Linked DNA regions of Homo sapiens. The protein of the gene in region 2 purifies or fractionates together with the protein of the main gene of each other region. This does not show direct contact. Each region holds a gene or a part of one and is shown on either strand. Other genes may lie near its edges.

Region 1 (3,656 bases), on a different chromosome or scaffold from region 2:
TCTCGTGCCTCAGCCTCCCGAGTAGCTGGGATTACAGGTGCATGCCACCTCACCCAGCTAATTTTTGTATTTTTAGTAGAGACAGGGATTCACCATGTTGGCCAGGCTGGTCTCGAACTCCTGACCTCAAGTTATCCGCCTGCCTCAGCCTCCCAAAGTGTTAGGATTACAGGTGTGAGCCACTGTGCCCCACCCAACAAGGTTTCTTAAGTGAGAGTTATAACCAGTCTGCCAGGGAAGTTACCCAGAACCTCTTTATTCTCCATGCTGCTGCTCTTAATGATCCACTAATACCTGTAGATGTATAATAATAATACTTACATACAAGTGATTAGAGGGCTTTTTATCTTTTTCTGAGGCTTGAGTTTAAGATCTACGTATTCCATGGGAGTCTACCATGCCTGGGAACATCCTATGTCAATTATTAAGAAAGAAATGAGGTTTAAAAACACTAGGATAGATAATAGGGAGAAGCAAGAGATTTGGTAACCCAGAGAAGAATAAAATAATAGTCAATACCAGCATCTATTGAGTGTTTACTCTCTGCTGCCCACTGAGCTAAGCATTCTATTTTGTGACCTCATTTTATCTTTTCAACAGCCATATGGGGTAAGTACTTCAGATGAGGGAACTGAAATTTAGAAAGGTTAAGTAACCGGCCGGGCGCAGTGGCTCACTCCTGTAATTTCAGCACTTTGGGAGGTCGAGGTGGGTGGATCACCTGAGGTCAGGAGTTCAAGACCAGCCTGGCCAACATGGTGAAACCACGTCTCTACTAAAAATGCAAAATATTAGCCAGGTGTGGTGGCACGCACCTGTAATCCCAGCTACTCAGGAGGCTGAGACAGGAGAATCGCTTGAACCCAGGAGGCGGAGGTTGCAGTGAGCTGAGATCGCGCCTCTGCACTCTAGCCTGGGCAACAAGGGCGAAACGCCATCTCAAAAAAAAAGGTTTAGTAACTTGCTCAAGATCACCAACAGGTGTTGCATCCAGGACTGGAGCCCACCTAGCTGGATTCTTGCATCTACACTCATACTAGCTGTAGCCTGGTCTGGCTCTGTCCTGGCTTATTAATCCATCTCAGGGCCCCAGAGTGCCCTGTTGACAGCTGGGCTTGAGAGTTACCATTTATTCTTAAAATGGGTGAACCTGATGTGGATCTCAGGGAGAGACTTTGCTAAGGAGCCTTAACCAGAGAAGCCAGTGAGATCCTCATGGCAGCTTAGGAGACTGTTTGGCATAAACTCCACCTTCTGGGAGCAGCTGGCTAACCAGAGCTTTGGGGATGGGAGAAGAGAGAGAGATGGAGGCAGAGGGACTCTTTGAAGGATGCAGTGTGTACAAGGAGTTCACAGTCCTTTCCAAGTCGCTTGGGTAAATGCTCCCAACAGCCAGGGAATGAGTAGCCAAGGCCGTTCCTCTCTGTCGCCATCCCTCCCCCTCCCGGGGAGAGGGCTTATCCAAACTGACCCAATTTTCCAATTCCCTGGGGTCCCAGATTGCTGTGAGAAGAACACTGCCCTTTTGAAGGGAAGAGAATCAGGTTGCCTTAGTTACCTGGAAGGTTGGCACGCCAAGTTCAGGTGCACGTAAGGAGAAACAGGGCTAGAATAAGTGTGAGTCGAAGGTGGCCACCGTCTTGCTGCACGGTTCCCTCAGTGGCAGAAGCCTTGATCAGGCTTCAGTGGCACTTGCAGGGAATGCCGACCTAATGTCAGGTGGCTGTCCATGACGTGTATCAGGAGCTCTCTCCAGCCACATGTGGTGCTAGGTGATGAGGCTCTGCAGCCTCCAGTTCAGCAAGGGGCCCTGGATAAGAGGAATCCACTTCACTTGGAGAAGTGGCCTGGTGACATCCCTATCACCAGCTCCTCGCTATTTGCTAAGGGAAGCACCTCCACTTGGACAGGGCTGAGGGCTAGATCTGGGCAAAAAACTCCCGTCTTGCCTCTCCCAGCATGGAGATGGCCAGCTGGCTGCACACCTTTAGGTAGAACAGCAAAGGTTCAGTTGCTGCTGCCTCGAATCCGTTTCAGAGTGAGATAAAGAAAGAGAAAACTAAGAAACTGGATACAGTGACATTTTGTTATTAGACCTTCCCCAGCAGGCCATTTAGCCTTTAGTTCCTGAGCAGAAAAATAATAATGGGGTGGCGGGAGGAGGGGGCAGGCGTTCACTGTTGTGTGCGGAGAATATTCTCTAAAGATGCAGGATGGGGAAGAGGGGGTGGAGCAGAGAGTGGGGAGGAGGGAAAGAAAAAGGACAAGTGTGGTGGGTCACATGCCCATTCTCCCCACCCCCCACCCCTTGCCAGTTGCCTGCTCAATGCTTCTACCCATGACATCTCACTGTTGGGAAGAAATGAGATCTTTCAGTTTCAAATGTCTGCCAAAGAAAAGGGACGGAGGCTTAAGTTCTCACTCAATGGTCAGCCAGAAAAAAAAAAAAAAATGAAGCTGCATCAAGATTAGGGACACCTTTGTTGGCTTTTTTTTTCTTCTCTTGCTCCATTCATCACTCTCTGGCAGCGAGGACACCAGGCCAACTGCAGCTGCTGACTTTCCCCAGTCGGCTGCCTGCTGTTGCCCAGGCCTGTTTTGGTAGCAACCCCCACACTGGCTTCCTCCCCGCCCAGTGGTGGTTACTTGTTGGATTCGTCCCTGGGGTAGCCCCTGGGATCCACTGACGGGTAACAGACTTGGAAGGATAAAATGTCAAGATGCAGGCATCAGGTGGCTGCTAGGATGAGATGACCCTGGGACAGCCTTCCAGTCCTACATCTGTCGTGGCTTTTCTTGGAGAGTCGGGCTGTGAGCATTTCACTGTATTCCAGGAATTTCTTCTAAGTGCATTGTTTGTCTTTGTATCACTAACAGTGAGAACAATAACTGGCACCTGGTGATAATGGTGATAAATAATCATGATTGTCTTTAAAGATCCTTATCCATTGTCTGTCACGTGCCAAACACTATTGCTCATCATATTTTTATGGCATTTTGCAAATGAGGAAACTGAGGCCGAGAGACAAGTCAAGTGACAAGCTCATTTTTCCACTATGGAAAAAAATGTGTATGTGTTTGTTGTTCCACCCAAACATGGGATTGCATACCACACGATTCACGATTCCCTGTAGTAGATAAGCTCTCCATAAAGATCATTAGAGGACACTGAGTCAAGTCTGGCTTTGTCACTTTAAAATAGTAAGTGGGACTGGGTGCAGTGGCTGACACCTGTAATTCCAGCACTTTGGGAGGCCAAGGTGGGTGGATCACCTGAGGTCAGAAGTTCAAGACCACCCTGGTCAACATGGTGAAACACCATCTCTACTAAATATACAAAAAAATTAGCCAGGCGTGGTAGCAGGCGCCTGTAATCCCAGCTACTCGGGAGGCTGAGGCAGGAGAGTCGCTTGAACCTGGGAGACGGAGGTTGCAGTGAGTCGAGATTGTGCTATTGCACTCCAGCCTGGGCAACAAGAGCAAAACTTCGTCTCAAAAAAAAAAAAAAAAAGTAAGTGACCTTGAACCAGTTCCTTCTCAGCTATAAAACAAGGATAAGAATAGAACCTACCTACCCCTGAGAGTCATGGTGAGGATATGACATCCAACATAGAAAGTCTTAGCGCCTATCATGCCTTCATATGGGAGCCCTTTCC
Region 2 (2,690 bases):
CCAACAACCGTGACCTTGTTGATTCTTGGAACAGGTTCCTGAAAGCCTTGTTGGGCCAGTGAGATTTAGCCCCATGCATGGAATTTCATGAAAATAGGGAGGCCTTGCTAGACACAGAGTATAAGCACTCTCATAAGCTCCATAACTTCTTGCTCTATATTCAGCAGAGACCCCTGGCCTGCTTCTCTCACACCTATCAAATGCCCCCCACCTGCAGACTTAAACCCCTTCCCTCCAGGTTTATTCCAGGATCAGCATTGAAATGGTGCTACCCCAGGGTGCCCTACAATGGACAATGTGTGTATAATTGTTGGATGCCCCTTCAATCTGTACAACTGCCCTGTAGGCAACCTTCAGCCTCTGTACACTGTACTTCTCCCCCAATAATTTGAGTAACTTAGAAGTAGAGACCTGAGAAACTAGTCGATGACCCAGATCTGTATAAACAGATCCTTCACACCCGCAAGCATACACCTTCACCAAAATTATCTAGTTATACAGGATTCTAGAGACCTCTCCCCAGGGAAAAAAGACCATTGCTCAGAATGAATGACAAAAGCATTTTATTGAAGATTCACCTGCAGATGGATAAGAGGGAATGAGAGGAGTAGAATGGGACACTAAGTGGTTCTCATCCTAAGCTTGCAGGGCCAAGTGCTGCCGGGTGTTGGAGAAGTAGTTTGGTTCTGATGTAGATGGATAATACAGGATCTAGTGGGAGATGGCATTGGACTGGGAAGGGACATATGTGACCCCAATAATTCTGGAGATGACACTCCTGGTCATTTTCTTCTCTGTCCATGGGAGGTGAGAGGTCAGCTGACATCCTTCCCATTCCAGGTGGGTCACCAGGCCCAAATCAAGAAGTAGCTACCAAACTCCAAGAGGCAGAGTCCCTGTCCCAGCACAGAAGATCATCCTGGGGCAGAGAGAGCCCATGGGATAGTGGAGGGGATACTAGTAAGATGAGCCCCAGAGACAGAGGATGGAGGTGAAGTGAAGGAAGCACAGAGACACCAGTGCTGGGCCCAGCTGGACACAGTGAGCTGCAGGGACCTCGTCTCCTCTATCGTCTCTTGTTCAGGGTGGTGGTAGAGATGATCTTGCTGCTGGAACTGCCAGAGACACTGCCACCAAACCCAAAGCCACTTCCAGAGCCGGAGCCAAAGCCACTACTCAGGCCAAACCCGGAGCCACTTCCTAATCCTCCGCTGATGCCTCCAGTGCTGGTGCTACCGCTGACCACAGCTGCAGAAAAGACACAAAAGACACAGTTATTCCAATGCTGCCAGCACCCCAGGGGTCTGGCAAGACCCGGGTGAATGAACAACTACAGCAGGCGTGGAAGGTACTTACAGATGCTCACGGCACTCTGGCATTCTCCAGACATTCTGTAGGGGAAAGAAAAGGCGGTGAGCCTCAGGGAGCACAGAATTTTGTTCAATAAGCATGCCTCACTCACCTCTCTTATCCTTGAGCAGCCTCTGAGTTTGAGGGCCCAGTGTGAACCTATTAGCTGAGCTGTCCTGGTTCGTAATGCACCGGCACAACACTGATGCTTGCAGCCCGGCAGAGGCATAAATAAGCTCATGGCCCTGGACCTCTCTGGCCCTCATGTTCACACCCTGCCTAACCCCTCACCTGTACTCCTCGCCCTCCAGCAGTTTGCGGTAGGTGGCGATCTCGATGTCCAAGGCCAGCTTCACACTCATGAGCTCCTGGTACTCACGCAGCATTCGTGCCAGCTCCTCCTTGGCCTGCTGCAGGGCAGCCTCCAGCTCTACGCGCTTGCTGTGGGCATCTTTAAGGGCATTCTCACCTCGCTGCTCTGCATCAGCCACGGATACCTGAAGAGTCTGGCACTATTGACAAAGGCATTAGATAGGTGGTCAGCAGTGCCCTGCCTTCAAGGCCTCTACACCTGTCCCCTCCCCTGGTCCAGCTTTCCTTGGGTTAGGATGTCAAGATTCTATCTGTTCTGCCCACTTTCCCTGAGACTTATGCATCTCATTCACTCCAGCCATAGCCCACCAATGCCTCCACCAGACTGATTAAATAAAAATGAGCAAAAACCCATGAAGAAGAGCCAAGAAACCTATGCACAGGAGCGTCATGGTGTGCCAACTAGGATATTGCTGAAAAAATCTGGGTATGCCTTGCACAAAGAGCTATGAATTCCCAGCAACAAGCTCAGGGTCTTCTGGCCTGATGCTTTATCTGCTTGTCCACTCTGGAGATGTCTGCCTGAGGCCCCTGGCCTTGTGCTCCATCTGGAAGGGAGTGACACCCACCTGCTTCTTGATGTTCTCGATCTCTGCCCGCAGCCTCTGGATCATCCTGTTGAGCTCTGCAATTTCACTCTTGGTGTTCTTCAGGTTGTCACCATGTTGGTCAACCGAGATCTGGAGCTGCTGGACCTAAGACTCAAGAAGACACAGAGAACCAGGTGTTAGGGGCATTTGGGTAGGGTCCATTCTCAAGTGAACTCAGTGAGAATTGCCACAGGTGGCAAGAATAGCACCAAATGTCAAGTAGTTTCAAATCAGACCAGGACCAACGATGCCTGGGAGAGTCTGTTCATATCTGACTTCTATTGGGCTTGAGCTAATGATCACCTGTTCACAGACATCAAAAGCAGAGCCCCAGAGCCAGCCCCATCTCCTGAGAGATCCATACCACCCACCTTGGTC

Evidence for each region.
Region 1: the proteins of KRT4 (region 2) and WWC1 purify together in Homo sapiens (co-immunoprecipitation; one large-scale study listed by IntAct). This does not show direct contact.

What each region holds. Positions count from the first base shown.
Region 1 is NC_000005.10:168,298,145-168,301,800, forward strand, and holds part of WWC1 (protein KIBRA), read left to right. Parts: intron 1-3,656. UniProt on the Homo sapiens protein: Regulator of the Hippo signaling pathway, also known as the Salvador-Warts-Hippo (SWH) pathway.
Region 2 is NC_000012.12:52,806,003-52,808,692, forward strand, and holds the end of KRT4 (keratin, type II cytoskeletal 4), read right to left. Parts: coding exon 2,684-2,690; intron 2,418-2,683; coding exon 2,292-2,417; intron 1,863-2,291; coding exon 1,642-1,862; intron 1,392-1,641; coding exon 1,357-1,391; intron 1,249-1,356; coding exon 1,067-1,248; 3' UTR 547-1,066; downstream 1-546.